Regions from separate parts of the Homo sapiens genome. Here region 1 is linked to region 2. Evidence: fine-mapped QTL for protein levels in blood plasma. A gene starts in region 2. The other region holds a variant in brackets. All regions are shown on one strand. Distances are from middle to middle.

The links. A credible set is the group of variants that fine-mapping cannot tell apart. PIP is the chance, under the fine-mapping model, that this variant and not a neighbour inherited with it causes the effect. Sun 2018 read protein levels with aptamers (SomaScan).
Region 1: its variant is the best candidate, but not a certain one, in a credible set for the plasma level of the PTGR1 protein (Sun 2018, PIP 0.76).

The regions. Positions count from the first base shown.
Region 1 is chr9:111,458,318-111,463,696 of GRCh38, reverse strand. All of the region lies in intron 2 of ECPAS (Ecm29 proteasome adaptor and scaffold), which reads left to right. Among named protein-coding and RNA genes, the nearest start is that of ECPAS, 23 kb to the left of the region's middle. The variant A/G (reference allele first, on the strand shown) is at 2,548.
Region 2 is chr9:111,596,583-111,601,891 of GRCh38, reverse strand. PTGR1 (prostaglandin reductase 1) reads left to right here and starts at 2,245. Exons shown (of 10, transcript NM_001146108.2): 1 at 2,245-2,289; 2 at 4,460-4,575. The coding sequence starts at 4,470. RefSeq lists an enhancer at 1,822-2,394.

The DNA of each region.
Region 1 (5,379 bases), 140 kb after region 2:
TCATGTATTCCCAGTTCTCTTTCTGTGTTCTCTGTTTTAATCTATTGATTTGTCTATTTGCTGACCGGTGCTTTTGTCACACTCAATCTTAATAATTGTCATAGCTTTATAAGTCTTGAAATCTGATTGAGCCACTCCTACTGCACTTTTATGGAAAATTGACAGTTACTCTTGGCTCTTTGCTGTTTCATACTCTGTTCCATTCATATTCCAAAGGAATTTTATAATTTTTTTCAGCTTTCACAAAGCACTCTGTTTTCTGTAGAGAATGTTTGACTGTTGGGGGCTTCCCATCTTTGCAATATTGAGTTTATTTGTGAGCATTAGTGCTGTTTACCAGATATTTCTAGTTCTCTCTTTTGGGCACAAAATAGAATTTAGTGCTGGGGACACAGTGAGAGACATGTGATTCACCACAGAAGTTTCACCACAGAAGGGTTGAATTGAGCCAGAAGGATTGAGGATATGGCACTAACTAGCGGTGTTTGAGATGGTGTTGGCTCTATCAGCCGACTGTAGTGAGCAGAGCCCTCCTCCTGATCTATGACTGAGGCATGGTCTAAGTGAGAAACTAATGTTGGTTGTTTTTAAGCCATGGAAATTTGGGGGTTATTATCACTAACCTATCCTGACATGGAAATCCATGAATGTAGTTGGGTGTGGTGGCTCACACTTGTAGTATCAGCACTTTGGGAGGTTGAGGTGGGTGGATCACCTGAGTGAGGTCAGGAGTTTGAGACCAGCCTGACCAACATGGCGAAACTGCATCTCTACAAAAAATACAAAATTAGCCAGGTGTGGTGGCGCATGCCTGTAATCCCAGCTATTTGGGAGGCTGAGGCAGGAGAATCGCTTGAACCTGGGAGGCAGAAGTTGCAGTGAGCCGAGATTGCACCACTGCACTCCAGCCTTGGTGACAGAGTGAAACTCTGTCTCAAAAAAAAAAAAAAAAAAAAAATTCCATGAATGTTGTGCTTCTCCATTAATTTAGATCTTATGAATTATAGTTAGGATTATAATTTTCTCTGTAAAGGACTATGACATGTTTCATTAGATTTATTTCCAGATAACTTGTAGTTTTATTGCCATTGTTAATTATATGTTTTTAAAAACTACATTGATACTTTGTTCTCATTTATCTCAGTTGACTTCTGTACTCTGATCTTGTATGCAACATAATTAACTTTCTTATTTTACATACCCTATCCCATAAATATCATGTAATCTGTGAATACTGACAGTTTTTAGTATCTCCTACTTCCATATTGCATTTTCTAGCAGTTCCAGTTCAATTTGCTTGGAAGTGATGATAGTGCACATCTTGTTTCTGATTTTGTATGAGATATATTTGCTGTAGATTTTACATAGATGCTTTTTGTCAGATTATGAAAGTTTCTTTCAGTGACGGTTATTTCCAGCTCCACAGTTATAAACTACTCTTTGGGACAGATTCTGCTAATCATATTTTTCAGACTCCCTTACCATCTAGCTTCTTGTTTTAAGATATCTTTTCCTATCTCGAGGTAATGAGAATATTCTTTATTTCTCTAGAAACTTTATTGTTTTACCTTTGACATTTAGATTTATGATCCATCTGGAATTGATTTTCTTTTTGTTTGATGATATGGTTTGGCTCTGTGTCCCCGTCCAAATCTCATCTTGTAGCTCCCATAATTCCCATGTGCTGTGGGAGGGATGCAGTGGGAGATGATTGAATCATGGGAGTGAGTCTTTCCCATGCTGTTCTCGTGATAGCGAGTGGGTCTTAGGAGATCTGATGGTTTCAGAAACGGGAGTTTGCCTGTACAAGCTGTCCCTTTGCCTGCTGCCATCCATGTTAAGATGTGACTTGCTCCTCCTTGCCTTCTGCCATGATTGAAAGGCTTCCCTATCCACATGGAACTGTAGTTCTCCATTAAACCTCTTTCCTTTGTGAATTCTCTAGTCTTGGATATGTCTTTATCAGCATCATGAAAACGGACTAATAGATATGGTGTGAGGTAGGGATTAAATATTGTTCTCCCATATTGGAATACAGTTGATTTAACACCATTTATTGAAAAGACCATCATTTACTCACTACATTGCAGTGACACCTCTGTTTAAACCAGGTGACTATATACCTGTTTGTCTTTTACACATTTTCTATTTTGTTCAAGTGGTCTACTTATTTTTTGTTAGCATAGTATACTTTTAATTACTGTAGTTTTTATTTTATGTGTTTATTTTTTTGAGACAAGGTCTTGCTCTTTTGCTCAGGCTGGAGTGCAGTGGCATGATCTTGGCTCACTGCAACCTCTACCTCCTGGGCTCAAGCAGTTCTCCCACCTAAGCCTCTCAAGTAGCAGGGACTACAGGTGCACGCCACCACGCCCAGCTAAATTTTTTTTTTTTTTTTTGGTAGAGATGGGGTTTCACCATGTTGCCCAGGCTGGTCTCAAACTCCTGAGCTCAAGCAATCAGCCTGCCTTGCCCTCCCACAGTGCTGGGATTACAGGGCTGAGCCACTGTGCCCAGCCTACTGTAGTTAGCCTTGAAATTTGACCA[A/G]AGTCTTCTAGCTGTTTTTCCTCTTCAAGATAGTTTTGGCAAATCTTGGTCCTTTGCATTTCTTTAAATTATAGAAAGAATCAACTTTTTTTTTTCTTCTAGTGGTATCCACACATTTAAAGATTATTCATCCACTCATTCATTGATTGAGATAGTTAGTATCTTCCTGTGTTGCCCAGGCTGGCCTGGAACCACTATAGGCTCGAGCCACTGTGCCTGGCTCTAGGATCAGCTTTTTAGTGTTACCCAAGTTATCTGATGGATTGTGCTTGGATTATATTGTCTATAGGTCAATTTGGGGAGAATTGACATCTTATTAATATTTTCTAATCTGTGAATATGGTGTATCTTTTAAGTTTTCCTTAATTTCTTGTAGCGGTGTATTTTAGTTTTCTGTGTAGAGGTCTTACACATTTTTCCCTAGATTAATTCCCAGCTATTCGATGTGTTTTGATGTCATTGTAATAGGTGTTTTCAAATTTTGTTTTCTAATGGTTTATTACTATTATATAGGAAACCAATTGATTTGTGTATTTTGTTATTCTATTAATTTTTCCATAGATTGTTTTGGATTTTTTGTGTACCAATCATTATCTTTAAATAATGAAAATATTATTTCTTCCTTTGTAATCTTAATGCATTTTATTTTTCTTTGTCTTATTGCTCTGAATAAAATTTGCAGTACAAATTTGAATAGAATTGGTAATAGTGAACATCTTTACCTTGTTCCTGAACTCAGAGGAAAAGTGTTTGGTATTTTACCTTTAGATATAATGTTTGCTGTAAGTTTTTATAAAAATCTCTTATCAGATTAAGGAAGTTCTCTTTTCTTCCTTGTCTCTTCAACATGAATAGTTTGTTCCCATCTATTTAGCATGAAGAGATGTTGAATTTGATCAAATGCCTTTTCTGTATATATTGAGATGATCATATGATTGTTATTCTCTATTGTGTTAATGTGGCAGATTACACTGATTTTCAATATTAAACCAACTTTGCATCTTTGGAATAAATCCAATTTTTGTATGATGTATTATCCTTTTTATGTATCGCTGGATTTGACTCATATTTTTTACTTATTTTATGTATTATGATTTAAATATTATTTTATTATCTCATTTGCGTCTATATTCATGAGAAATATCTTTTATTTGCTTTTATCTTTCTGGGGATACCCTTGTTTGGTATCAAGGTTATTCTGGCCTCTTAACATTCAGGGATGTGTTCCCCTGCCATCCCTTTACCCCACCTTTTTCTCTTCTCTGGAAGAAGTTATGAAGGAGAATTTACCAGCGAATTCATAAGGTCCTGCCATTTTTTTGTGTGGGGAGGTTTTTAAATAATACAGTTCATATTTGTGGTAATTTAGAATGAACCAGTTTTTTAAAGCAGAATTTATAATTGTGAGTTGTATCATTGTGGTCTGTCTTTAGAAGTAATTAAAAAAGCCCCTTAAAATCATGTAATTATGACTTTGTACTAAGTTATGCCTCCGTATGATGAGCTCTTGTGTCTCTGAGGTATTGTCACATGGGATTTTTAGCTTTCTGGCCTGGCTCAGTTTTCCTTTGGTGGTAGTAAATGGGGTTATTAACATACCTAGCATAGGATTCCTACTCTAGGTGGGATTCTACTAATAATTCATATTTTGCTCCCAGCTGATGGAATGTGTGTTCTCAAATATTTCGTAGACTTCTGATTTATTAAAATACTTATTTTTGTAGTAGTAGTCAGCTTTATTTAAAAAGGAGGTAAAATTAGCCAAATATGATGGCTCATACCTGTAATTCCAGCACTTTGGGAGTTTGAGGCAGGAGGATCGCTTGAGGCCAGGAGTTCACAAGCAGCCTGGGCAACATAGACCTCATTTCTACAAAAAATACAAAAAAGAAAAAGATAATAATTTCTTCTTGCCACTGAGCTTAAGGGGAAAAAAAAAGAAAAAGGTAAAATTAAAGGAATAATGTATTCTGAGAGATAATTATATACAATATTTATATAACATATGGAAAATATTTTATATCATATATAATTACTCTGCCAAACCTAACCAGTTAAGGGCATAGCCCTCCACTAGACTGAATCGACTTCATATGCCACCTACAAGTTCCTGTTATCCCAGAGCCACCCTCACTTTTGACCTATTGGATACAGATTTGGGGGTCTCCATGGACCCCCTCAGGTTTAATCATTAGCTAGAACGAGTCAGAACTCAGGAAAGCCGTGTATTTATGGTTATGGTTTTATAGAAAAGGATGCAAGTTAAAACCAGCCAAAGGGAGAGACATGTAGGGCAAGGCCTGAGAGGGTTCCAGATGCAAAGCTTGTGTTGTGTCAGGGTACTTTCCCAGTATAGCAATGTGTGATAATACACACAATGCACTGCTGATCATAGAAGCTCACCGGCTCACCTGAACTTTGGTGTCCAGGGTTTTATTGACCAGGTGTGATTGATTGATTGGATCATTGCCCATGTGACTCAATTTCTAACACCCCCCCCACCCTCCTCTCCCTCTCCAACCCTTCCCCTTGTCCACCTCCCCTAATCACCTGGCTGAAAACCTGCAAGATGATTAGTCTTTCTAGTGTGATCAACCCCCATCCTGAGTTATCTCTTAGCGTAAACAATCTGGGGCCCACTATGAGTTACTTCCTCAGTGTAAGTTATCAAATGTGATTAGAGGGTCCCACCATGAATAACAAAGGCACTTCAGTTACTGGGGAAATCCCAAGGGTTTAGTGCTTTCCTCTCAGGAACATGGACAGAGGTCACCTAAATTCTTTATTACACAAGAATATAAAAGCTACATCTGTAATATGATAGCCGTATAT
Region 2 (5,309 bases):
TGTAACAGCCGTGATTTAACTTAATCACCATGACTTGACAAGCTGCAGCCTTTGAGACTGACTGAGTCATCAAGTTTGGGAAACAGATTTTGTTTGACCTGGTGCGGCCCAATCTTATCTGTATCTTCAATTTAAGGACAAGTGAGTAAATATGTGAGCCACTCTGTGTTTCTGGCACTTTTTTCTCTTATTCTTACTTTGCAAAGACTTTTTATGCCTGCAATTTTATTAACACTTCTAATATCCAAAAGAAACAGTGATTCTGTAACAAGTTATCTTAAAAGAAAAAAAAAAGAGAGAAGCAGAATGCGATATGTAACCCAATACCGTTTCTATAAATTAAATGTATATGACCACAGTGCACATTATGTAAGAACATGGAAAAAAAAACTGTATGCAAATCAAATACATCACAGTAGTTACCTATAGTAGGAGGAGAAAAGCAGGAAATTGAGTTTTTTTGGTTTTCTTTTGAGACGGGATCTCACTTAGACACCCAGTCTAGAGTGCAGTGCCACGATCGCAGCTCGCTGCAGCCTCCACCTCCCAGGTTAAAGCTATGTTGCCCACGCAAGTCTTGAATGCTTGGCCTCAAGTGGTCCTTTTGTCTCAGACTCCAAAAGTGCTAGGATTACAGGCATGAGCCACAGCACCCAGCCTGGGAATGGAGTTTTGTTTTATATTAAGTTACATAAATTAATGAGAAGGGAGAGAGTGAGAAAGAAAGAATTTGGCAGACCAGTGGGGATAAAGTGCCACCAACTCTGATTAGTGTGAAGAATTCAACTCTCGGCATTGTGTTTTTAGGGTCCATCCAAGTTGCTTTATGTACATGGAACCCAGTGCTTCTGATGCTGTGTATATCCTGTGGCATGCGTCCACCACGCTTGGTCCACACACTCTGTTATGGGCTGAACTGTGTCTTCCCCAATTTCATGTGTTAAAATCCCCAAGTCCCAGTACTCAGAATGTAACTGTATTTGTAGATAGGGCCTTTAAAGAGGTAATTAAGGTTACATGAGGCCATATTAGTGAGCCCTAATCCATTTGACAGTATTTGAAGACAAGGCCTTCAAAGACGTGTTTAAGTTAAACGGAGGCTGACAAGTGGGGCTCTAATCCAATATGGCGGGTATCCTTACAAGGAGAGACATTGAGCCAGGTGTGGTGGTGGGCCTGTAATCCCAGCTTCTAGGGAGGCTGAAGGAGGATCACCTGAGTCCAGGAGTTCAAGGCTGCAATGAGCTATGATGCCCACCATTGCACTCCAGCCTGGGTGACAGAGCAAGACCTCAAAATAATTAAAATTAAATAAATAAATTAAAGACATTGAATCTTCACAATGACTGGAAGTTAGGCATTCTTCTTATCCCCATCTTGCAGATGGCTGAACTGAGTGAGGCAAGGAGAAGGTAAGTAAGTCTTTGAAAGCTACACCACTAGTAAGTGGCAGGTGCAGGCTTCGAACCTGCAGTCGTCTAATACCAACGACTTAGCTTCACGTTCAACCCCTGCCTGAGACCACCTCTCCTTGCAGAAGCCAGGTCAAGGCCTGATGTTTGCTAGGGTGTGATGGGTGGGGTGCCTCAGTGGCAAGAGTGCTCACTCCTGCCTGGGGGAGTCTGGCAAGGGTTCACAGAGGTGACCTTGAATTGGCTGGTGGAAGGCGAGTAGGTGTTCAGCAGGCGGACTGGGGACAGACAGGCAGGGTGTCTGCACCGCAGCCCTGGGCGAAAGCTTGCACTGCGGGCAAGCGGCAGGGCTGACGGGGAGCCCAGGGATCGGAGCCAGCACCGGGGGCTTATTAGGGCTGCGGCCGCCCCAGGCCCTGCCTTTGGACCCTTCCGGCCTGCTTGGCAGATGCCACGGTTGGTTCCCCCACGGGGCATATTTCCGCCGGGCTCCAACTTAGGACCCCAGGCGGAGGTCCAGTGTCAGCTGGACAAAGCTCTGTTAGGAATTTTCCTATCAGGAGTCCCTAACCCCCTACACGCACACACACGGGCGCGCGGGCGCGCACGCACACACACGCACACATGCACACATACGCGCGCGCACATGCACATAGGCACACAGAGATACGCGCACACACACACACAAACGCACTCAGATTTCCCGGACCCTGGTTTTCCTCCTGTGACCCTTTCGGGGCCGGGCTCTCACCCTAAAGAAGCAGCCCCGCCCTGGGGTGGCCCCACCCTCTCTTGGGACCTGTCATAAGTCGGACCCCGGGCGCCCGGCTGCGCAGTCCCAGCCGCCTTCCCCAGGCAGTGGAACCTTCGGGCTCCTGTAAGTAGACCTCCTGCTTTCTTTCCTTCCCTTTTCTCCCTCCTCTAACCCCCTTGCTTTCTTCCTGCCAAGTTTCTAGACGCCCCAGTGGAGGAGGTTTGCTCTTAGACCTCCTCCCCTTACGTCGAAATGACCGCTGGGTCTTGCACTCGGAGGATCTTGGGAGCCGACGTCCCGACGCCTCCCGCCCCCGCAGTTCCTTGGAGAGCTTGGAGCCGCGCGCCGGAGGGAATAGGAAAGCTTGGTTACAACCCGGGACACCCGGTAGCTTCCTGCACCCGGGAGGGGGCTGGCCAGGGAACTTGCTGGACTGCACAACTGGGGGAGGGTAGAAGAAGAAAGATCGGGGTGGGGATTCGGGAATGGGCAAGCGGGCGGCGGGCGGCGGGAGGCGAGGGTGGGAGCAAAGGGCGAGCGGGCAAAGGCCGGGCGCCGCGCCAGGCCCCCTCCTCGGGCGGGCGAGACTTTCCCGGGACCTGGCCCCTCTGCGGCCAGACCCTTTCCAGGAGGGCTTCTGGACTTGTAGCGAGTTTGGAAGCCCAGCGGTTGCTTTTTTGGGGAAAGGGACAAAGATGTGTGAACTCTAAAGAAGTTGAACTCATAGAAATAACGACTAGAATGATGGTTGCCAGAGGCTGGGAGCGGGTTCGGGGGGGAATGGGGGCTTGTTGGCCAAAGGGTACGAAGTTCAGAGACGAGAGGAGTAGGTTCTGAGATCTGTTGCACAGCAGAGTGACTAGAGCCAATAATGTGTATTTCGAAATAACAGAGTAAACTGCAAATGTCTCACCGTAAAAATGATACGTAGGGCCTGGCGCGGTGGCTCACGCCTGTAATCCCAGCACTATGGAAGGTCGAGGCGGGCGAATCATTTGAGCTCAGGAGTTCTAGACCAGTCTGGCCAACATGGGGAAACCCCGTCTCTACTAAAAGTACAAAAATTAGCTGGGCGTGGTGGCGGGCGCCTGTAATCCCAGCTACTCAGGAGGCTGAGACAGGAGAACCGCTTGAACCCGGGAGACGGAGGTTGCAGTGAGCTGAGATCGCGCCATTGCACTTCAGCCTGGGCGACAGAGCGAGACTCCGTCACAAAAAAAGTCTTAATTTTAAAAAAAGAAAAGAAGGAACAACCCCGGGCTGCAGATCAGACCGCCCCCCTGGCTCCCTCGCAATGCGGGAGTGCTCCCTCCAGGTCACCGTGTCCCCTCCCGCGGCACCGGTAGGGGAGCTGGGGAGATCACTGGCAGCTCCAAATGGTTTCGTAACTGGATTGTTTGTAGCGGATGCACCCGCGGGAAGGCGCAGGTCCCAAGTGATTCGGCAGAGTTCAGTCCAAGCAGAACATCCTGAACCCCCAGCTCGGGGCAGCCTTCATCATCTTCCCTTGCTTTGGTGCAGCGTTTCAGCTCAAAATCGGTTTGGTGTGGAGTTTAAACTCAAATCCCTACTGGGCCAAAGAAAATTCGCACCCGATGGCTGAGTGCAAGTGGTTCACACCTGTAATCCCAGCACTTTGGGAGACCGAGGCGGGCGGATCGCCTAGGCAACACAGTGAGGCTCCTCTCTACAAGAAAAGAGAGAAAAAAAAGTATTTAAAAAAAAAAAAAACGCACCTGAAAATGGGGCGGAGCAGCGGCGCCCTCCGGTGGTTTTCAGGAGTTCTGAGACTGCCTTGAAATGCGTGGCTGTTTCCATCTGAAAGAGGTGCATGGACTTCTATCTATTGGGTTCTTTGTGTTTGATGCTTTTTCTTAGAATTCACTCCATGTGAGATGAGAAACGGAATGGAATATTCGCACTTCCGGTAACTGTTCAGTGCCGTAGAGAAACTCTAGCCTAGCAGTGGCTGGGAAGAATTTCTTTGTTGTTTTATATTTTTTCCTTGTCTTGAAGATTTCTTTAAACCTCAGTTTCCTCATCCGTACACTGGCAATGATACTAATGTCTATCTTATAGGGAAGTTATAAGGATAAAATGAGGTAATCTATATGAAGTGCTTAGCACAGCACCAGAAACATAGTAAATGTTAAATGAATGTGGTTGGCATGATATGATAATGATGGGATTTGAGGATATTGTAATTGTGCTGTCTGGTCTCAGTTTGACGGCTAGAGAACTGTTAGAATGCAGTCACTTCATGGCAGTTGACTACATATTTACTGTGTTCTAGGAGCTTCAGGATGGTTCGTACTAAGACATGGACCCTGAAGAAGCACTTTGTTGGCTATCCTACTAATAGTGACTTTGAGTTGAAGACAGCTGAGCTCCCACCCTTAAAAAATGGAGGTAAGTCATACTAAAAATATTTCAGAGTTGGAAGGGACTGTATCAGTTAGCTTTTGCTGCATAACAAACTACCCCAAAGTTTAGTGACTTTAAGCAACAACGGTTTATTAGTTCACAATTCTTTGGGTTGGCAATTTGGGCTGAGTTAAGCTGGGTGGTTCTTCTTAGGTCTCATCTGGGGTAAATGGTTAATTTAGGATGGGCCTTGCTCACATGTCTGCTGATTAGCAGGCTTTCTGTTGGGGTGCATGCCTTAGTTCTCATCTATGTGGCCTTTCTAGCAGGCTAGCTTGAGCTCTATTCTTATAGTGGCCCCATAGATCTAGAGCAGCAGTAGTTGGCAAGCTCCAATGTGCAAGCACTTTCTCTTTTTTTTTTTTTTTTTTTTTTGAGACAGAGTCTTGCTCTGTTGCCCAGGTTGGAGTGCAGTGGCATGATTTTGGCTCACTGCAACCTCTGCCTTCTGGGTCCAAGCGATTCTCTTGCCTCAGCCTCCTGAGTAGCTGGGATTACAGGTGTGCGCCACCATGCCCCCCTAATTTTTGTATTTTTTCTGAGATGGAGTCTTGCTCTGTCACCCAGGCTGGATTGCAGTGGAGCAATCTCGGCTCACTGCAACCTTTGCCTCCCAGGTTCAAGCAATTCTCCCTGCCTCAGCCACCTGAGTAGCTGGGATTACAGGCGCCCACCAACACGCCCGGCTAATTTTTTTTTTTTTTTGTATTTTTAGTAGA